Homo sapiens: one gene and its partners. The protein of the gene in region 4 purifies or fractionates together with the protein of the main gene of each other region. This does not show direct contact. Each region holds a gene or a part of one and is shown on either strand. Other genes may lie near its edges.

Region 1 (2,769 bases), on a different chromosome or scaffold from region 4:
TGGATTTTGGGGTATTTCAGATTTTAGATTTTTGTATGAGGAATGTTCAACCTGTATTTGAACAAGCATTACCAAATATCATTGAATATTAATATCTTTTGCGTAAAAACTGCTATTATCAGCATCATAGTTTCTCTAAAAAGAAAACTTGGGGATCATAGCCGATAGAGAGACTTGCTAAAATATAAATCAGCCTCTGCAAAACTGTTTACATATTTATTGGTTTACATATTTTATTGGTTTATTTCTATCCCCTGTTCACTTTTTCTCTTCCACTTCCAATTATGAAGAGAAAATATTTGTTCAGGGTTGTCCCCCCGCCCCCCGTCACTGCATAATTTCTCCTCTTACAAGCTGCTTTTGGCTTTCATTAATAACAGCTTCCTTTTAGAAGGTCTGATAAGGATATTTAAGGAAGAAGAGAATGACTCTGTTATTAAAGGTGGCATGGAGACTGTGGAGGGAATATTTTTTAAAGCACTACTCATATCCTTTAAACTAAATTTTGCCAAAGCCCGAGACAACATTAAGGAGAAATTGTACCTTAAGTTAGTAATTCCAAATCTATCTGAGTTGTATACCCATCAAAGACAATACAGTTATTAACATAGATGAAGGTATGCTATAGGCATCATTCATTATCTCTATATTGAATAGGTGAAAGATAACTGTAGTCAGGTGAAAGGCATTCATTATTTTTAAGCTGAAAAGGGGATCCTTGAAAACACTGAAAACCTCTACAACAATCTTCAGGAAGCCTGCTATCTTGGGATTCACTAATAATAGGCCAAGAACAAAGGCAAGCATCCATTCCTCACTCCACCACTTTTCTATTTCAGTGGGTGTCGTTGCTACGATGAAGACTTTGGAAATTTCCTTTCTCTTTTAGGACAGGGTCAGGATTTAGGACTCATAGCCTGAAAGCTCATTACATACTCCTTGTAACCATCAGTCCAAGGTTCAGTTCACTAAAGTGCATGTTCTAAAACAAGAGCTATCCTCATTCCAAATTTTAAAATATGTACTCTGGCCGGTTGCAGTGGCTCACGCCTGTAATCCCAGCACTTTGGCAGGCCGAGATGGGCGGATCTTTTGAGGTCAGGAGTTTGAGACCAGCCTGGCCAACATGGTGAAACCCCGTCTCTACTAAAAATACAAAAATTAGCCAGGCATGGTGGCATTTGCCTGTAATCCCAGCTACTCGGGAGGCTGAGGCAGGAGAATCACTTGAACCTGGGAGGCAGAGGTTGCAGTGAGCTGAGATTACACCACTGCACTCCAGCCTGGGTGACAGAGTGAGACTCCATCTCAAAAACTGAAAATAAAAATAAAAATATGTATTCTCCTAACTGAAATATTTACTTAATCTGGAAAACAATGTAACTATTTTTAAAGTGGTTACATCTATTCTTGCTGAAGAACAATAAACAGAATTTTTTGACTAAGCATAACCAAATTTCAGAACAGTCTAATCAATGCCAAGTATCCAAGGCAAACTCTAATACCCATCCATTGTGCAAAACCACAAGCACGCAAGTATTAAATAAGAGCAAGCTGTCCTGAGCCCATACCTAATGAATTTGTGTCTTAAATATTGTACATTGTGTTTGAGGCTTGTCAAAACTGGGATTATGGCAAGAAAGGTTGCCTAACTCATACCTTTCTGCCTCAAATTCCAGGTGCTAAAGGCTAATGGCATTTTAAACATCTTACATTTTTAAAAATTTATATTGCCTCTGCCAAACAGGCCTAATAGTTAAAAGCAAGTTGAGACAAACCAGGCAGATTCAGTGTGTGGAACAGGAAGGATGTGCTTTAAAAAAAGGTGGAATCCCTCAAAAAATTCTATAGGGAGACAGCAGCCTTAATCTACATAATTCTTCATCTCGCCAATTCAGCCGCAGCCTTTAAAGAGTTAGTGTTAATGGCTTTCTGGTTTGAAAACAAAAATGCATCTATGTGGTTGAAAGTTTGGGAGGAGATTCACCAATATCTGAGGAGAAGATGGAGTGAAGGGAATTCTTACTTTTTGCTTTATACCTTTCTATAATATTTAGATTTTTTTTTACTGTAAGTATGGATCAAATTGCAAAATAAAGAAAAATGCCAACCTTAGAAAAGACAATAAATGCACAAAAGATATAAACAGGAACAGCAAATATTTATATTTTTTCCATTTTGCTCTTTTTAAATCTATGTTTAGAACTTTATATCTTGGGACTTATGTATATATATACCTTTTAAATAAAATAAATTTTCTAAATAAAAAGTTGAAAAAGATACCTTTTGTTTTTTAAGAAAGAGGTTGTAACCACTTATAGCCCTGGTATTTCTGTAACTGCATTGGTCTAATTTTGATTCTATTATGTCTTCATGAGTAAATGAACCAAAATCACCACTCAGTCCCTAAAGGGCAGAAATCTATAATAACATTAGAAGAAAGAAAAGGCCAGTCACGGTGGCTCACACCTCAGCACTTTGGGAGGCCGAGGCAGGAGGATCACTTGAGCCCAGGAGTTTAAGACTAGCCCTGGCAACATAGTGAGACCCTCAACTTTACAAAAGAAAAAATTTAAAAATTAGCTGGACATGGTGGTGAACACCTGTAGTCCCAACTACTTGGTAGACTGGGGTGGGATGACTGCTTGACCCCAGGAGTTTGAGATTACAGTGAGCTATGATCATGCCACTGCACTCCAGCCTGGACAACAGAGCAAGATCCTGTCTTGAAACCACCTCTGCAAAAATTATAAATGAGAAAATCATTAC
Region 2 (6,778 bases), on a different chromosome or scaffold from region 4:
GAGCCACTGCGCCCGACCATGTCATTTTTCTTTTATCTTGGTATATAATATATTTTTACAATATAATACATTTCAGTTTTTATGTAGTCTAACCTGTCCTTCTTTTTCCTCATAGTTAGCACCTTTGATGTTAAAATTGTAGCCCAGGAGTATAAAAATAATCTATTTCTTTTTGTTGCTTTTATGGTTTTATGTTTTATGTGGCTTTACAAGTTATAAGACTTTAGTTTTTTCACAAATGGTTATCTACTTAGCCAGTAGTATTCTTGTTTATTCCTGAGCAGAATATATATTTTGTTTTTATTGTGACTGAGATCTTTTTTCCACATCATCTTCTGAAACTGGTTATTGCTGTTTTAATGGAAAACAGTTGATTGTTATATTTATCTTATATGATTTAATTTCTCATTATTTTTTTATTTGCTTGAAGTTTTGGAAAATAATAGTTGTCTCTAAATAGTAATCATTTGAAAGAGTTTTCTAATATCTGTGCCACATTTCTATTTTCTTGTTTTCTTTCATTGGGTAGAACTTCCAGAGCAATATAAACTAATAGCAGTGAGGGTAGTTTCCTTATCTTGTTCTGTCATTAATGAAACTGCCTCTAATATATCAGTGTTAAGTTTAATGTTTATTATTCATTTCAGTAGACCGTGTGGTACACGTACCCTTTTGTTACTAGAATAGTAACTGTTTTTATCATGATCAAATGTTGAATTTCCATCAAAAACCACTTTAGCATCTAGTGAGATAAACAAGGGGTTTTTCTTTTTAATCTCTTAGTATTAGTCATAGATTTAATAATGGTACCATCCTCACATTTCTAGAATGAACTTTTTTTTGGTCATGATGTACTATTCCATTAATTTGGTAATGTGTTGTTTGGAATTTTGCATGTATATTTATTTATACAGTTGGTTGGTATTATTATTTGTGTGTATGGTGATTTTTGTTTGTTTTGACTTTTGGGTTCTTTTTAGGCAGGGTCTTCCTCTGTCACCCAGGCTGGAGTGTAGTGGCATGATCATAGCTCACTGCAGCCTTGAAGTCCTGGACTCAGGTATCTTCCCACCTCAGTCTCTTGGTGAGTTGGGACTATAGGTGCATACCACTGTCCCCATCTACTTAAAAATTTTTTTTTTTTTTTTTTTGTAGAGATAGGGTCTCACTTTGCTGCCCAGGCTGGTCTCGAACTCCTGGGCTCAAGCGACCCTTCCACCTCGGACTCCCAAGGTGTTGGGACCACAGATGTGAGCTGTGATGCCTGGCCCATGTGTAGTTTGTGACAGGTTTTACCATCAATGTTATGAAAATAAATGGAGAAATTTTGCATCTTTTCTAGCATAGAAATGATCTATTCCTTGAAGGTATGATAGAAATCATCTTTAAGATTATATGGATTCAGTACTGTTTGAGGGGAATCATTATTGGACAACTGTTTTCTGCCTCAGTTATTCAGGTTTTTTTTTTTTTTTAAGATGGAGTTTTGCTCCTGTTGCCCAGGCCAGAGTGCAATGGCACGATCTCAGCTCATTGTAACCTCCGCCTCCCAGGTTCAAGCGATTCTCCTGCCTCAGCCTCCCAAGTAGTTGGGATTACAGGCATACCACCATGCCCGGCTAATTTTGTATTTTTAGTAGAGACAGGCTTTCACCATGTTGGCCAGACTGGTCTCGAATTCCTAACCTCAGGCGATTCACCCACTTTGGCCTCCCAAAGTGCCGGGATTACAGGCATGAGCCACCATGTCCAGCCCCTAGGGAGAATTTCTTAAGCTGATACTCTTTTCTTTTTCTTTAAAGAGTCTCACTCTGTCACCCAGGCTGGAATGCAGTGGCCCTATTATAGCTCACTGCAGCATTGCTTCTCAGCCTTTTGGCTAAGATCAAGTGTATAGCTCACTGTAGCACTGAACTCCTGGGTTCAAGCAAATCCTCCCACCTCAGCCACCAGAGTAGCTGGGACTACAGGCATGCACCACTATGCCCAGGTAACTTTTAAATTTTTTTGTGGAGACAGAGTCTCACTATGTTGCCCAAGTTAGTCTTGAACTCTTGGCCTCAAGCAATCCTCCTGCCTTGGCCTCCCAAAGTGCTTGGGTTATAGGTGTGAGCCCCCATACCTAGCCCTTAAACTGATACTCTGTAAGGATCTTCTAATTCACTAATTAGGTTTACTGCATTATACAGTCTGCTAGCTACCATCTTCATTATCTTCATTGGGTGTTTTACTTGGGCAATTGCATTTTTCACCTCTAAGAAAGTTATTTTCTTATTGTTCCTTTTTTATGATAGCTTATTCTTGTTTTATCAGCAAGGCCGTATCTTTTGTTTTCTCCTGTTTCTGACAACAGCCCTGTCTGAGCACAGAGACTAGTCCTCTCCTTTTGAATTGCTAAGTATTTTTGTGTCCAATTATTGTTCATCTGTTTGCTTATATTTTTGGAAGGATGTTTGCATTTGTTCTGTAGCTGAGATGGGTTCTTTCAGAAATTGTGTTGGTTTCTTTTACATTTTTGGTTCCAGAAGAGTCTCTCTTTGATAGCCCAAAGCCCACTGGTGCAATAGAACCCACCAGTCAACCTATTGCATCTGCCAGCACAGCACTCCGCTCCACATACAGTGTGTGAATTGTGCAACAGGCCCAGGGCTGCTCCCAACCATCTCTAGTGACACCACAGAGACTACAGGAGACACAAATTTGTCCTCCTACTTCTACCTCCAGCTCTTAGTCAGGGGCCACGTGTGAGGCTGGTATGTGTGGGCTTGCGGGGTCAGAAGGAGGGAAATCCCGAAAATACCTCTGAGTTAAATGCTTTTCTGGTCCACTCTGCTCTATATGTGTTGTTTCTGCTGAAGCCTTTCAAAGGGCTAAGACCCTTCTTTGGAATCTAATAGTGCTATTTTGCCAAATTGGACTTCTTACTGTTGTTGAATCTTTTTTCTCCTTCTGTCCTGTTGTCTCTACCTGAAGTACAATCTTCTTAATCTCCATTTCCATCTGTGAGAATTCTACTCATCAGTTACTTCCCAGCTTAATGCCACTTTCTTTCAGAAACTCCCTGAGATTCCTTCCACCATCAGTAATCGTCCCTTCATCACATGTTCTGCCTTACATTCCAGCTTCGTACATCCTCATCACCCTCTTCCTTTTTGCACTGTGAGCTCTTTGAGTTCAGGAACTGTCTTGTTCACCTTTAGATGGAGGGTGTTGGAATGATGAGGTTAGAGGAAGCCAGGTTTGAGTCCCTTCAACATTTACTCGCCATGAAACCTTGCACAAGTAAGTTACTTAACCTCTGAGTGGATTTTCCCCTCTGGAAAATGGGCATTACAACAGTACCTACCTCATGAAGCTGTTTTGAAGATTAATTGAGGTAACATACCACAGTAAAGGTTGAAATAAATGTTAATTCCTTTTTCTATACCCTTACGGTACCCTGCCCATGTAGCGCCTCATCCACACAGGCCTTCAGTGATTGGTGATTGAATAAAAAATACAGATCCAAAGTGCTTTTGTACAAAATTCACTTTTGCATTGTTGAGTCAATGGCAGATCCAGAAAAGAATCTGGGGCTGGGCGTGGTGGCTCACGCCTGTAATTCCAGCACTTTGGGAGGACAGGAGTTCGAGACCAGCCTGGCCAACATGGTGAAACCCTGTCTCTACTAAAAATACAAAAATTAGCTTGTCGTGGTGGCGGGTGCCTGTGATCCCAGCCACTCAGGAGGCTGAGGCAGGAGAATCACTTGAACTCGGCTGGGGTGGGGAGGAGGGCGGAGGTTGCAGTGAGCCGGGAGGTTGCAGTGAGCTGAGATCGTGCCACTGCACTCCAGCCTGGGTGGCAGAGTGAGACTCTGTCTCAAAAAAAAAAAAAAAAAATCCGGGGCTGCTGAACATCCCACACTTGTGCCCACTTGCACATGCCGAGTAAGTGGAACGTTTTAATTATGTTTCATAAAGTCTCTAGAATTAAGTAGGGTTTTGTTTTAACAAACAAATTGTACTCCTTATATGAAAGATAAAATTCTATTTGGTGGTTGATTGGTTGGATTTTCAAATAAGCAGTTGCTTTCTGGTTTGCCTTGACATTTTATAAACATAACTACAGATGGAAGCTCAAAAGAGAGGCAACATAGTGTTATAGTGGAAAGATTTGATTCAGAGTTAAATTTTAGATGGTTGTTGACTGTTAACTCCTCCCCAGACAGACTTCACAAATCCCTCAATCAGTGATCGTGTTAATTCTATATATGGTTCTTCCTCTGCTTTTGTTATATTGAAGTGGCATGTCATCTCCCTTTAGAGAGTCTTATTTAATAGGTAGGAAAATCTCATACCTGATTATGAAATTTTGACTAAGCTGGGGATCTGATTCTACCTTTTTGGTGGAAGGAAACTTTTGTAATTTCTTCTTTCATTGATTATTAAACCTGTTTGGGGAGGTAGGGGTGTGTGTGGAGGGGTGTACCCCATGGAGTAAATATGCTTTCTAGGAAATTTTCTTCTTTTTTTCATCTCCCTCTAGGCCTGCACTGCCCAAAGTCTTGGAAACTTGCTGGATATGATGTACCGGGAGCCAGCACGATGGTCCTACACATTCCAGACATTTTCCTTTTTGAGCCGCCTGAAAGTACAGCTGGAGCCCTTCCCTGAGAAACTCTTACAGGCCAGGAAGCCAGTACAGATCTTTGAGAGGTCTGTGTACAGTGACAGGTAAAATGCCAAGCCCTCCACCAGTCACAAGCCCCATGCTCAGTGCTGCCTGTTTGATCTTGCACAGATCCTGCACTGCTATGGTCACTGATGATTATAATTTGAAAAATTATCTTCTTTTTTAAAGACAACACTATACAGATTTGTCCAGAGTTGTACTTCTACCAGATTGTCATCTATGTCAAGAAAGGAAATTGGGTTTTTCATCAACTGAATGCTTTGAATTTCTTACATTGCTACTGATTACCTTATGTTTCCTTATTTTCTGGCATGGAGCAAGCTGGTAGCCACCTAATGTAACCATCACATGCTAAAAGGCACATAATAGACACTTAAGTAGCAGTGTATATTCTAAGAAATCAGATGATTCAGTGGTTGATTATCCCCTTTAAGAAAAAAGCAGACGAAATTAAAATTTGTGTTCCTGAAAATGATATAAGAGATATTTTCAGCCTTTTTTTTTTATTGTTCAAGAAAGGATGCTTAGGCAGAAATAGCACATCTGAGAAACTGGCTTCTGTCTCAGATTTAGCCCTTTTTGACCCCTTCTTCTGTGAGAGGGCTTTTTGCTGGCCAGAGTCTAGTGGACATCAGTGCCTGTGTCAGATCAGGGATGGGCATCATCCTGACCACCTGAGGGAGTGAGATGTGAAGTCACTTTGAATGCAAGCTAGCAGCACCCTGGGAAGTGAGCCCATCTGCTCCAGAAGAGCTAGGCCGTGCAGGCTCCGGAATGCCTGGCTCTGCTGCAGAGACCAGGCTGTGACTTGAGGTTAAGCCGCCTAGAGACAAAGTCAGGATGGCTTGATCTGGACACTGCTGGAGTTTTTCTTATCTGAAGCCTATGAATGACCAGTGTCAGTGTGAAATAGTGCTTTCAAGCAAAACGATCTTTCTTAAGGCTCTTTGAATTATCAAAATGGGAAGTGGTACATTTTCATTGTCACTGCTGAAGACACTCAGTTGGTTACTCTTTTAATTCCAAATTAGACAAACTAGTTCTATTTCTTAGTGCTTCCGGAAAGCCTCCTAGAAGAAAAAAAATAAGGATACATTTGTAAATGACAAGTGATTTTTCTGACTTTACCCTAAAATCATGGAAGATATGTAAAACAAACCCTATAGGCTATCCGTTCCTTGTGTACGTACCCCGAGAGAGCCTACTTTTTATAAAAGCTAAATATGTGAATTACAAATGGCTGGGCTATAGGTTTTACTTCTTTTTCAGCTGTTGGATATCCCACCTGCCTGTTTTCCTCTCTTCTCTCCCAAGCCATGCCTCTCGGACTCCGAAGTTGAATTACATATAACCACATGGGTTGTTTGGAAACATAGTCAGTCTTTATTTCTAGCCGCTTCATGAAGTAGGTGTGTGAGACCCTCAGAGGAAAATAGAGAAGTAGAAACACTTTGTTAATTAGAAATGCATTAAGAAGCTGCATGGATCTTAACCTTTGCTTGTAAAGGAAGAGGTAATAATTGATTACACTGTGGGCATACAACATTCCAGGTGCTATCTTCAGTGAGGGCATTTTCGAGACAGAAAGGAAAACTAATCACAAGTTCTAATCCCGAGGGTAATTTAGACTTTGTTCACTTGCACAGATTTATTGGATGCCTCCTGTGTTGAAGCACCAAGGCTGGCCCTGGGGCTGCAGCAGTGAATAAGGCAGACCCAGTCCCTGCCTAACAGGGACTGAACACATGCTCACGTGTGTGATATTTGTTCCAAAGGAGGAACACAGGTTATCTGGGAGAGTTGATTATAGCGAGGAAGAAATCTTAGTCTTTTCTGTTTGAGTTAAAGGAAACATTAGCATATGGTTTTAGAGCAGAGGCCCTGACTCCTAGATCCTTATGCCCTGTTCTGTCCTGCAGCCCCTGCATTCAGTCTGCAGTACTTCCCTCCCACTCAGCACCACACCCTTCTGCCCCTCACCCCATCACCACCACAAGCTTTGAAGAAATAAAGGAAGTGCTCTTTCTCAAGAAAGCCAAGAACCCCTTTCATAGGGCTTATTAGCAAATCTTTAATTTCTCTTTATAAGATCCTTTTTTGTTTT
Region 3 (6,778 bases), on a different chromosome or scaffold from region 4:
AATACGATGCCTCATTTGTGAAAGGACTGTATTGCCTGGGGGCCAAGTTCTGATACCTAGTACAATGATCTTCATATCACGAAAGCCCTCAATTAGACTCTAATCTGAACTCTTTGACAACCAAAGACCTTTCACCTGTTCTTATCTCCGTTTCCCCAGCTCTATGTAGAATGAACAGTTTAGCCCTGATCAGAGGTCCCACATTTGAATACCTGCAGCAACCAGGCAGGTAATGGAAATGGATGAAGCTGGCTGTTTTAGGCTATAAGGCATAGTGGGGACTGAGGCAAATCAGAGAGTGAACTCAGGTCCCCATCTCTAAACGGCAGTTCCAGCCACTTGTTGCTATGCAGTGATATATGAAACAGTGTTGCCAAATTCTTAAGGAAAACCATACATCCAGATTCTTAGCGAAATCACCCAATTTAAAAATAATTCGACAAAAACTGTTTTTTGAGTGCTATGTGCCAGGCACTCTTCTAGGCAATGGGATAAAAGATTAAAACCAGCAAAATTCTCTGCCCTCATGGAACTTATGTTTTATTGGCTAATGAACAAATAAAATGTATCATGGATCAGATAGTGATCAGTGCTGTGAAGAAAAGCAAGCAGGGGAGTGAGGAATAGGGAGTATTAGGAGTGAGGCTGTGATTTTGAGTAGGGAAACTGACATAGTTGTGCATAGGCTGGACACAAATGCAATAAGGATGCCAGTTATTAATATCAGTCCTGCTGTGAGCATCCAAAGGACCCACCCAAGCCAACACAGAGAGCTGTCTATCCGCCTCCCTGGGCAATGAAAAAGGCACCTGATAAGGTCTGCAGCATCACTGGCCTCCCCATCAAGTAGTTGCCCTACTCAGAACCACAGCCTTTCTCCTAACAGCCCTGATGAAGGTTCCTGTGATTCTAACACTTTAAGAATCCATGTGTTCTTGCTTTTGTCATGGAATGGGGCTCACTTTGTCTTTTTGGATTAATGATGATGGCCCACACAGGCGGAGAGGGGTCTGGGCTGGTTCGTGGCCTGTGCCCTCAGATTCCTTCCTCACCCATTCCCTGCTCTGCTGTCTTCCTGTGGAGTGGAAGCTGACCCATTCGGCCTGTTTCCCAGGCCAGATGTCAGCCGGCGCCCAGCTACGTTTGCTCAGTGGGAGTCTCTACTGGGAGATAAAAAGGGAGAAACCAGAGTATTTCTCCTCCTTCTCCACCCCATCAGATCCATACTACTAGGAGCTTCTCTGTGGCTTTGGCTTCCGCTACACAGGCCACCATGATTCTAGCTTCTACCCAGTAACCTAGGTATCTGAACTTAGGTAACAGGTAATTCTCCCTCTGTGTCTCCTAGGGTGCTTACTAACCTCTAGGTTGCCTCTCTGTCCCCTGCTGGCATCTCAGCCCCTCTGTTATCTGTGCAACCAATCCCTTGCATCGAAGTGCTTCTGCTCTAAATACTCTAGTAGTTTCTGTTTCCTGTTTGACTCTTATTGATACAGTGTCACTTGCCGTTAATTTGGGGCCTCTGGGATAAGGAGAACTCCCTAATAAGCATCTTCTCTCAGTGTTTGATGGGAATATGGGGCCATATGGGATATTGGTACCAGGCTAAAGCAAATCATTTAACCCAAATGAACCTGTTTCTACAGCTATAAAATGAGTATAAAAATATCTTTTCCATCTATTTCCAGAGTTACTATAAGTATTAAATTCTTTAAAACCATGAAAACATTTTGTAAAGTAGTATACATACCCTACAAATATAGTAATAGCATTATATCAGTGCTCATCTCAGCTTCATTCTTTCTAGCTGTGTGGTCACAGGCCAACTTAGCCCCTCTGAAGCTAATTGTGGAAGAAAATAATAGTTCATATATTAATAGATTGTTTTGAAGTTCAAATGAGATAACCAATTATAAAACTGTTCAATGTTAGTACTTGGTTGGAGATGGTAATGGTTAGCTTTACTGTAGTTTTACAGTAAAGTTTGGGTAAATTACTTAACATCCCGTGAGCCCTTGAATTCCTCAACTCTAAGATGAGAATAACAATGCCAATGTGAAATTAATTAATTATGCATAGATACTTGTAAACCTTTTTTTTTTTAAATATACAAACATAAAGGTATTATTTTTGAAGAGAACCTCTCCCTGAAATTATATTTTATCCTGGAAACAGCCTGGGTCAGAAACTATTGTCCACTCTCCTGGGCAAATGATGGCATACCATATTCCCCACATAGCATGGGCTTCAGGCTCACCAGATGTTGGGGACTGATTCCAAGTACTTGGCAGGGAGGCCAGTGCTGCCGCAGACCTTATCAGGTGCCTTCTTAATTGCTCAGGGAGGGAGGAGGGTAGACAGCTCTCTGTGTTGGATTGGGTGGGCCTTTGGATGCTCACAGCAGAACTGATATTAGTAACTGACATCCTTAATCAGATTTGTGTCCGGCCTGTGCACACAGGTTAGGACCTGATAGCCTGGCTTTGAGTCCTGGCTCCACTATTCACCCGCTGCAGTTTGGGCATGTTACTTAACCTCTTGTTCCCCAGTTTCATCTGAAAATGAAGATTAAAGCCCTAACTTCTTCACAGGGTTATTGGAGAAATTGAATGAATGAATCCACGTAAAGCATTTAAAATAACACCAGACAAATAGAAAGTACTCTGTTAGGTTAATTGTTATGATCAGTATTTTCTTGTAATGAGAAAGCAGGTTTCCAACATTAGCATGTATACCCACTACATGAAGTGGCAAGAAAAAAACTGACCTTTCAAAGGACTTACAAATCCCATAGCCAGAGGCATTCTTGTTAAACCTTTGTCTGGGACTTGAACTTGACCAAGGTTCCCACTGAATGTTGAAAATTGGTTTTTGTAGCCACAGGCCAAAATCTCCATCTAGGAACTGATTGGGAGCATAGACTAATGGAGATGGGGTGAAGGAGGGCTACTATTGTGTTCCATGTCACAAGCAAATGCACTAAAGATGTTAAATTTTAAGAATCAAGACTGTATTAACTTAGCTGCCTTATTCTCTACAGCAGTAGAGAATTCTGGTTAAATACATTTAAATAGAGCTCCCTGGAGAACTAGAATAGTTTTACAAATCCATCTCTTAAGCCTGAATTTTCACAGTGGTCCCGTGGTTCAAATGAGTGGTTATGGATACAGATGCTATGAAAACAAGTGATCCCTGCACTAGAACTGGTTTAATACATTGTGGCCCAGCTTTTCTCCAGGAGATCCTATTAGACGAGGTCCTCATCTCTCTGCCCATCTATTATGGCTCTTGTATTCCTTGTCATTAGAGTAAAACTAGGTTTTACTCTGCATATCTCCTTTCTCACAAATATTTGTAGAGTGCCTACAATATGCAAGGCGTGGTACATCTAGGTACAGAGAGATACAGCGGTGAACAAGAGAAACAGTCCTTACCCTGTGGGGCTTGTGGGTGGAGGTGGGAGTTTAACACATCATTTAATTGTAATTACAATAAGTATTGTGTTATGAAGGTACAGCGTGGGTAAGAATATCACAGGGAACCTATTTTAAGTCAGGATCCTCTCTGAGGAAGTAACTTTTAGGTTGGAGCCTGTTAGATGAATAGGGAGACACCAGGCAAAGGCAGGAGGAGAATGCTCCAGGGAGAGGGAGCAGCAGACACAGAGGCCCTGGCGTGGAAATGACCATGGCATCAAAGGAAACAGCAGAAAGCTGCAGAGCAGGTGCTGTGAGTGTGGCTGGCAACGTAGGTAGAAGCTCAGTGGTGCCTGCATCATCAAGGGCAGGTTAAGAACTTGATGAATGAATGCCTTTAGGCAGCAGATTAATTAACACAGTTAGATTGGTGTAGAGTGCCCTATATATGCTCTCTGGACAATCCCAACCTCATTCACAGCTCTAGTCTCCCCTTATGCTAATGACTCCCAAATTTACGCCTCTATGCCAGTCCCCTGCTGAGCTCCAGACCTGTGTGCCCAACTACCCAATGGACAGTTTGCTCATCTGTATCAGGAGGAGATGAACTGATGGACACATGAGACCCCTTCCAGCTCTAGAGTTATCTGACTTTAGGGGTTCCTAGAAAGGAGGGATCACTCAGGAGGAGGAGGTGGTGAAGTTGAGCCAAGCCTTGAAGGATGATAGGTGTATCATGGGGGACTTGGCTCTCCAAGTCAAGCTGGAGTCCCTTCTTGGCAGCCTTTCTTTCCTTGCTGTGGACTTTGTGCCTGGAGAACAGGCCAAGAGCACAGGTTGCTCGTGCCATTTTATAGATCTCTTTTCTGCTGCAGAGACCCTCCATTCAAGACCCAGACATACTTGCAAAATCCTATGTTTAGGTCACAAATGTCAGTTGAACTAATTTAGAGTAGATGAACTGGCTTGCTATCAAATCACCATCACTGGACTAATGGTTACAAAATCCAACTCCCACAACAGCCTCTGAGTTCTTCTGAGATCTGGCCCCTGCCAGAACACCTTTTTTGTGTCCTGCTTGACAGTCTTTGCTCCAGCCACAACTATTTGTAATATTTGTACTCACAGTCATCATACTGTTCTTGACCCCTCCTCGTTTACTCTTATGGTACCCACTACCTGGAATATCCTCCCCAAATGATCAGAGCATTTACTGCATTGTACAATAATTTGTGTAATACTCCTCACCATCCTCCTGATTATCCCTATCATATTAATCTCCAAATCTGTACCACCTGGCAAAGGTTTTCGACAATGTTTATTCCATGAATTAATAAAGTAGTGACTGAACGTCCGGTTGGGTGATCTGTGACCACCTCAAAGTCAGCTTGACCTCCCCAAACATGTTATCACATACACCCATGCCCCATAAACTAACCTAAGTGGTCCTTTCCTGTGTTCCCATACTGCCCTGGCACTCCTTGCCCCCTAAAAATATCATTAGATGATAACATTCTGTTTTCCTGGCATCTTCCCTTATAGCACCTGTAACAATGTTCAGCACATGGTAGATACTCAGTAGTTGTTGGTTAAATGAATAAAAGAAGAAAAAGACCAAAGGAAAGAGCCAGTTAGCTCTTTCTCCAGTGAGATCTTGTTTTTGGTCTTCCCATTTGTAAAAGAAGTAACTGCGTAAAATGACTTCTGATACCTCTATTCTGAATTTGATATGGGCATACAACTGTCCGCCCAAAGTATCTAACACAGTGGCTAAAGAGAGAGGTTACAGACTGGGCAACATTGCAAGACCCCATCTGAAAGAGAGAGAGAGAGAGAGAGAGAGAGAGAGAGGAAAAGAAAAAAAAAAAAAGCAAAGACACTTTGGAAGGCTGACATAGGTGGATCGCATGAGCTCAGAAGTTTGAGACCAGCTTGGGCAACGTGGTGAAACCCTGTCTCTACAAAAGAAGACAGAGAAAACAAAATACAAAAAAAATTAGCTGGGCATGGTGGCACACACCTGTAGTCCCAGCTACTTAGGAGGATGAGGTGGGAGGATCACGTGAGCCCAGGAGGCTGAAGTTACAGTGAGCCAAGATTGTACCACTGCACTCCAGCTTGAGCAACCATGAGACCCTGTAAGAAAGAGAAAGAAAGAGAGAGAGAGAGAGGAAGGAAGGAAGGAAGGAAGGGAGGGAGGGAGGGAGGGAGGGGGAAACGAAAGAAAAAAAGAAAGACAGAGAGAGGAAAGAAAGGAGGATAAAGAAAAGAAACAGAGGTTTAAATGCTCACTTCACCCCCCATAGCTTTAGAGAACCTTGCAACGAGTATTAGACTGGAGTAGACTAGAGTTTGGGAACTGGAATTTTTGTTTCAGTTTCACCATTCAGTAGTTACATCACTTTGAGCAACTTAGTCTCTCTGGTTCTTCATTTTCTCCTTGATAAAATTAGTTAGATTAGGTAAACTTTAAAACCATTTTAGGTTCTGAACTTCTGTGATTCACAGGATAGTGTTTCTGGAATTTAAAACATTACAAGTGCCAAGGGTAGGTGCGCTCTCAAATGAAAGGGGAGTTCTGGAATTCTCTGCAGCAACAGAAAGAGCAAAACACCCTAAGTTTACTTAACAGTTTGCTACTGAAGGCTCTTTGGAAGTGTCAGATTCACCAGATGGAGGGCTTCACAGCAGCCTCAGAATGATTCAGCACGGTGCCCCACAGTCAAGGCTGACTTGCTGCCTCATGATTCCTGGTCTGGCGCAATTTCCTCTACCCCATGTGAAGGGGGATTTAAGTACAAACTTGGCACTCAGGGTTAAAATTACAATATTAAGGCCGGGCACAGTGGCTCATACCTGTAATCCCAGCACTTTGGGAGGCCGAGGTGGGCAGAACACCTGAGGTCAGGAGTTCGAGACCAGTCTGTCCAATGTGGCAAAACCCCATCTCTACTAAAAACACAAAAATTAGCTGGGAGTGGTGGCGTTCGCCTGTAGTCTCAGCTACTTGTGAGGCTGAGGCAGAAGAATCACTTGAACCTGGGGGGTGAAGGTTGCTCTTAGCAGAGATCACACCACTGCACTCCAGCCCGGGTGACAGAGCAAGACTCTGTCTCAAAAATAAAATAAATATTAAATATGCTCATTGAGACTACACTTGCCACTCACAGCCGTACAGTCCTGCCTTCCTCCAGAGACACCTTCTGTCCCCCTGGGAGTCACACCCTCTTCCCTAGTTGTGAATCTTCAGTCTAGGATATTATATGAAAACCTATTTGACCAGTCTAGGGCAGCCAGGTTCCCTACCATGTGTCTGTTTTTCATAATCATTGTTAGGAGACACAGCACCTTAATCAAATAAA
Region 4 (6,778 bases):
GGGAGGCGGAGGTTGCAGTCAGCCAAGATCATGCCACTGCACTCCAGCCTGGCTACAGAGCGAGACTCCATCTCAAAAAAACAAACAAACAAAACAAAACAAAACAAAACCAAAAACCAAAACAAAACACAACAATTTAATTTAAGCAAAACACCTGCAGCTAATAATGGTAGCATTTGTAGTGCTTACTATGTGCTACACACTGCTCTAGGTGCTTTACCTGTAATAACTCATATAATCCTCACAATGCCATATGAAGAAATTTATTTTATTGTCCCCATTTTGTAGATGAAGGAACTGAGGCACAGAGAGGTCAAATAACCTGCTGAAAGTTACATAGCTTGGGAGAAAATTCTGTGCTATGTAGTCCAGCTCCAGAGCCTGTGCTTTTTAAATCAGAAAACAAAGAATAATAATTAAGTACAATACCAATATGTTTGCAGTGAGTTTGTGTTAATACAAGAATTTGATTACTATTAAATTCAAGAGCATGTTTTAAAAAATTCATCTGTTTTTTGGAAATATATGTATGCAAATTTAAATTCATTTTCCCCTTTTAGTTTTTCAGTTATGGGACAAAAATATTATATCAAAACACTGAAGCTTTGCAATCTAAATTCTTTTCACCTCTTCAAAAAGCGATGCTACCACCTAATAGTTTTCAAGGAAAAGTGGCATTCATTACTGGGGGAGGTACTGGCCTTGGTAAAGGAATGACAACTCTTCTGTCCAGCCTAGGTGCTCAGTGCGTGATAGCCAGCCGGTAAGTCCCTTACATCAAGCCTATTGGCGACGCTTTTGAAGAAACTGTTCTGTGCCATAGTATTGAAAACACTGTTCGCCAGAGTTGTTTGATTAGCATCTTAATCTTATATGAAATACTAGAAATATTATTTAGATTATTTAAATACATCTTTTTGGAAAAAGTTAGGTACTATTTGAGATGAAAGAAACAATGAAAATTGTGGAACTGATGTTTGGGTAAACATCCGCAATTTTCATTATTTTAATTTCTCCAATTCAGTGGTAGAATATTTCTTTTTCTGTACACGAAGATGAAGTTAAAAAGTACGACATGGAGCCAGGTGGGATGGTGTGTGCCTGTAATCCCAGCTACTGGGAAGCTGAGGCAGGAAGATCACTTGAAGCCCAGAATTTGAGACCAGCTGGGCAACATAGTGAGACCTTGTCTCAAAAGAAACATTTTTTTTTTAAGCACTATATGGAGGTTGCTTTGTCTTCAGTGGGAGTGATTATGGTTACTGCTTTAATTAATAATTAACCTTATACCAGGAAAATTGATGCAGTACTTTCATTTTATTTTTTATTTTTTGTGAGGTGGAGTTTTGTCCAGCTCTTGTCGCCCAGGCTGGAGTGCAGTGGCATGATCTCAGCTCACTGCAACCTCCGCCTCCCGGGTTCAAGCAGTTCTCCTGCCTCGGCCTTCCGAGTAGCTGGGATTACAGGCGCCTGCCACCACACCTGGCTAATTTTTTGTATTTTTAGTAGAGACTGGGTTTTGCCATATTGGCCAGGCTGGTCTTGAACTCCTGACCTCAGGTGATCCACCCGCCTTGGCCTCCCAAAGTGCTGGGATTACAGGCGTGAGCCACCGCGCCCAGCCAGTACTTTCATTTTCTATAAAATAAACAGGTATTTCAAAATATCTGTTATTGTGATGAATATAGGAAGGGTAAGACCATGTGGAAGGAATTTCTTCTTATTAGGCATATTCTGGTACCCTGTAAACTCTGTTCCAAAGTCTGAGGCTTTAGAGACTGGTTTAAAAATCCACCCCTTCACCATTTTGAATGGTGTAAAATTTTAGGTAAGCCAAGTAGTCATCCAAACAACAGTTACTGTGTCATTTGCAATTGCAGATTGTCCGGAATATTTTTTGTTTTTACATTGTAATGTTTTTAAGAGTTTAAATATATTATTTTCATTTTAATAATAATTTCTATTCATAGTTTTTTTTGTAGAATGTGAGACTGCATGAATAAATGTAGTCTCTTTGAACCCATAAATTTAGTACAAAACCTACTAACATTATACCATGAATATATTTTCTTTGTAAACCTGGCTTATCAAGGAAATAATTTAAATCTGTGAGTAGATAATGTTAAAGTAAACTGGTTTAAAAGTGACTAATTCAATAAGTTAGTATCAAATATATAAAAATGATCTAAATTTGACTTTTAGAAAAAATTCACATTGATTTTTGTATATAAATAACATCTATACTTTCTCAGAAATGCTTTTCTTTAAGCTATGGATTCTCTGTATTCTTCAATTTATGAAATTGAAAAATATAATATGAAGTCATACAAGGTGTTTATTTCTAGGAAGATGGATGTTTTGAAAGCTACCGCAGAACAAATTTCTTCTCAAACTGGAAATAAGGTACATTAAAAATCAGTTATTTAATTTAGATTTAGGAATTATAACATGTTCAAATAATTTGTTCATGCGTTTGGTTTAAGAAAGCTGGAAAATGTCATATTCTTTTTGTTATTTTGCAGGTTCATGCAATTCAGTGTGATGTGAGGGATCCTGATATGGTTCAAAACACTGTGTCAGAACTGATCAAAGTTGCAGGACATCCTAATGTAAGTGTAGCAATGATGAAGCCAAAGTGCAAGACACTTGATGTTGATAACACCCACCAACATGTACAAAGGAAATAAAATATTGATACTGATGTAGGACAGGCAAGCCCGAATCTGGGGCTTAGCCTGGGAAGGTTCTTGGCTTCACCCAGGAAAGAATTCAAGGATGAGCCGGTGGTAGAAGAGAACAGCTTTATTGAAGCAGCAGCAGTGGAATGGATCTGTGACTGTTCCTTCAGAGCAGGGCAACACCATAGTCAATGTGCTGGGCATAGCAGTTGAGAGGCAGTTTTATAGTCGTATTTATACCCACTTTTAATTGCCTGCAAATTAATTAGGTTTATGCAGAAATTTCTAGAAAAGGGTTGGTAACTTCTGAGTTATCAGTTCGTTGCCATGGAAAGGGCAGTAACTTGCTGACATTGCCATGGCAATGGTAAACAAACATGGTGCATTGGTGGGTATGTCTAAAGAGGGGGTGCTTTCATCCAGGACCTGGTTTAACTAGTCCTCATTCTGGTCCTGTGATGGAACTCTGCCTCCAGAGTTAGGCCTCCTCCTACCTCAATATGAGCAAGTGCTGTGTTGAGAAGCACCTATTTTCCATCCCTAGGAAAATGCCAGTTCTGCTAAAGCAAAGAACAGAGTAGGAAGACTGCTACACAACTTCCTTTCAGGAATACTTAAAGAATCCATTTATGATTGATCAGAAAACAAACTTGATTTCACTTTATTTAATAAGATTATGAAATAACAAGAGCAGTTATCCAAGAGTACAGCATTGAGTTTAAATGATTGATGCTTTTTGCTTCTCCTAGTAACTTTTGATTGTCTTCCTCAGTGGAGGAGAACGATATAAACATGAAAAACTATAAGAAATTCAAAATTTCTCCTTTTAAGACCTGAAATATGCATGAATATTTTGCTGTTGCTTGGTACATTTATCGGAGAGAAGCCGTTTCTTCCAGTAGTCTCAAAGATAGCACTTTTCTATGTTAAAGGTATTTTCAGAACCAGTAACACTGAATCTCCTGTAGAACTAGCCAGAATCTTTACTGATGGTAAATAGATCATCAACCACAAGCTGCATTGGTTAAGTTAAACTAAAATGACACCAGAAACAAAAAGCCATTTCTTGAGATTCTTTGAAATAAAATGCAGTCACATGGTAAATATGTTTAATCTGTATTAATTTTCTTTTTTTTAACTTTTAAAATTTTATTCATTTATTTTGAGACAGAGTCTTGCTCTGTCACTCAGGTTGGAGTGCAAGTGGCACAATCACGGCTCAGTGGAGCCTTGACCTCCTGGGTTCAAGCGATACTCCCACCTCAGCCTCCCAAGTAGCTGGGAATACAGGCACGTGCCACCACACCCAGCTAATTTTTAAAACAAAATTTTTGTAGAGATGACGTCTCGCTTTGTTGCCCAGCCTGGTCTTGAACTCATCCCAAAGTGCTGGGATTACAGGCATGAGCCACTGCACTCAGCCTTAGTTTTCTTAATAAGAGAATCTACCCTAATTTAAAGACGGCTTAGGATTCTGAAATTTGGTAACTAACGTAGGAGGTTTTCACAGACTCAGACTACCAAATCTCATGGTATTGTTTCGTAGGTAGCTGTGGACTTCAACTTTATTGTATTATTTCTATTAATACATTTCAGAAAAAAAACCCTGCAGGGAAAATGTTTTTCCTCATCTAAAGTTTCTGTAACTTGCCTTGTTCATTTATTAGATTGTGATAAACAATGCAGCAGGGAATTTTATTTCTCCTACTGAAAGACTTTCTCCTAATGCTTGGAAAACCATAACTGACATAGTTCTAAATGGCACAGCCTTCGTGACACTAGAAATTGGAAAACAACTAATTAAAGCACAGAAAGGTATGTTTATTTGCTTTTCTCATATTTATTTGGCTTCTGTGTGTGCAAGGTTCTGTGGTAAGCTCTGTGATACTTTAAAAGTCAATGAGACAGTCTACACTTGTACAACTCACAGTGTAATGGAGAAAAATGATATTTAAATAATTATCATATGTTACAATTTGAGCAGTAATAAATATATGTTTCAAGTGCATTGGCAATCCAGAGACAGGAATGACTAACTCTCCCTAGGGTCAGTGATCAGGTTGAGGAACAAGATGCAACTTAAGCTGAAAGTTCAAAGATCTAGATGTGGAGAAAGAGGAGGGAAAGGACATGTGAATGTCAATGGATAGAGGCCTGGTGGAGAGGAGGACATAAGTACATAGGGAATGATGAAAACTTTGATGTCATTAGAGATGGGGAAAGGAATAGGAAATGATTTTGGGAAGGTGGGTTGGAGTGTAATTGGGAGAGTTCTCAATACCAAAATAAGGAGTTTAATGTTAATTCTGAAAGAAATAGGAAGTATTTTTGTATAGATTTCCATTGAAGGTGGAACAAAGAATGCGACTTGATTGGAAAGGTTAGTGACAACAAGATGGATGATAAAAGGAGTGCCATTCAGGAGGATTTGATTTTTCTTTTAGCAGGTGGCTAGATTGCATGGGAGATAAAGTAGAAGACATTTAGAAGACAATAAGATCAACAGGCCTTATTGATTTGATGAGAGTATTTTTAGATGGGATGAAGAGTCTGGATGATAATACCAATGAGATTAAGAACACTGGAGGGAAAATAGATTTAGAAAGAACTTACTAGGAGAACATTTTTGTTAGTATTATGAATGAATTACTTTATAAAAGTTCATATGTACATGGATAGCAAACATGTCTAATGTATATATGTGTGTATATTCATATATATCTAGAACCAGCGTACATTTATTCACCTGACAGACACTTACTAATGACTTTTGGGTAGCAGGCCCTATACTCATGCTCAAAGCACAGAGGTGGACAAGACCCTGTCCCTGAATAATTTGGGGAACTTGAAGGGTGCGGGTATTTTCTCAGAGAAGGTGGAGAGTATTTTAAACAAGGAAAATGAGGAAGCGTTCTCATGCTCCTCAGAGGATGTCCTTTGAGGGTTGAGGGGAGGAAAGAGGGCATGGAGCTGGCTAGGTTCCTCCCTCTGTTCAGAAACCTTTGCCTTATAAGGTTCAATTTCTTCTTTTGTGCAGCGCAGGTGATCCTAGAACCAGCTTGAGATACGCTGTAGGAACAGAGAGATGCTACAGAGGCACTAGCTCTGTGTGTGTGTGTGTCTGCTCACATACATACACTAATAGCTTCCATCCTTTCTATGCACTCATTGAAATTGAAATTCCTGGTTACTCATTTCCATGATGGCAGAATGGATGTGATTTATAATTGGATTTTGGATAAGTGTTTTATTTGATGTTTTTTTTTTCAGTGAGGGGCAGGAAGATGGATAAGAGTGGGAAGGGGGGACAGGGAAGAGTGTGACTCCTCTCTCTTCCCTTCTCTGTCCGAGGAACCTTGATCTCTGTATCTCTCCTGTGTCTCTGCCTCTGTCTGATTTTCTCTCGCCCTACCCCTTGCTGATATCTCCATTTCATTCTCTACTGCTCTGCCTCTGTCAGCTCCTCATTTTTGGTTCTCTGTTTCTCTCTTCATCTGTCTCTTTCGTTTCTTTGTCCTTCTTTGCCTCTTTGTCTCTTATTTCTTCCCTCGCTCATCTCTGTGACCCTCAATTTCTGTCTGACTCTCCCTTCTTCCCTCATTATTGTCTTTCATTTTAACATAGACTCTGATCTATTTTTGTTCATCACATTGGATTAAAATTCTATGAGCTTCATTAAAAATATATTAGATAAAATATCTTTTTAAAAGATGGAAGCCAGTTTTTATTCTTCCAAGATTCCTGTCAGTTATTGATGCTATAAGCTGACAGAGTTTGGAGAACTTGGACCACTCAGCTGAGGGGAGTACGCGGTAAAGGATTTGTTCTGGTACTGGATCGACAGTCAAGGAACTGAAGCGTGACATTTTTAACAATATCATGTCTTCCAGTCTCTCAATGTGGTATCTCTCACCATTTATTTAGGTCTTCTTTAATTCCTATCAGCAGTGTTTTGCATGGGCATTGTACATGTTTTGTTAACTTTCTCCCAAAGTATTTAAATTTTTGGTGCTATTGCAAATGGCACTGTTTTCTAAATGTTATTTTCTAGGTGTTTTCTTGTAGTATTTAGAAATACAATGGATTAGTTTTGTGTATTG

Evidence for each region.
Region 1: the proteins of DECR1 (region 4) and POGLUT3 fractionate together in Homo sapiens (co-fractionation; one large-scale study listed by BioGRID). This does not show direct contact.
Region 2: the proteins of DECR1 (region 4) and DGUOK fractionate together in Homo sapiens (co-fractionation; one large-scale study listed by BioGRID). This does not show direct contact.
Region 3: the proteins of DECR1 (region 4) and HEBP1 fractionate together in Homo sapiens (co-fractionation; one large-scale study listed by BioGRID). This does not show direct contact.

Annotation. Positions count from the first base shown.
Region 1 is NC_000011.10:108,471,616-108,474,384, reverse strand, and holds the end of POGLUT3 (protein O-glucosyltransferase 3 isoform 1 precursor), read left to right. Parts: 3' UTR 1-2,269; downstream 2,270-2,769. UniProt on the Homo sapiens protein: Protein glucosyltransferase that catalyzes the transfer of glucose from UDP-glucose to a serine residue within the consensus sequence peptide C-X-N-T-X-G-S-F-X-C. Can also catalyze the transfer of xylose from UDP-xylose but less efficiently.
Region 2 is NC_000002.12:73,942,192-73,948,969, forward strand, and holds part of DGUOK (deoxyguanosine kinase, mitochondrial isoform a precursor), read left to right. Parts: intron 1-4,527; coding exon 4,528-4,715; intron 4,716-6,778.
Region 3 is NC_000012.12:12,991,976-12,998,753, reverse strand, and holds part of HEBP1 (heme-binding protein 1), read left to right. Parts: intron 1-6,778.
Region 4 is NC_000008.11:90,016,564-90,023,341, forward strand, and holds part of DECR1 (2,4-dienoyl-CoA reductase [(3E)-enoyl-CoA-producing], mitochondrial isoform 1 precursor), read left to right. Parts: intron 1-560; coding exon 561-763; intron 764-2,345; coding exon 2,346-2,403; intron 2,404-2,522; coding exon 2,523-2,609; intron 2,610-4,345; coding exon 4,346-4,493; intron 4,494-6,778. UniProt on the Homo sapiens protein: Auxiliary enzyme of beta-oxidation. It participates in the metabolism of unsaturated fatty enoyl-CoA esters having double bonds in both even- and odd-numbered positions in mitochondria.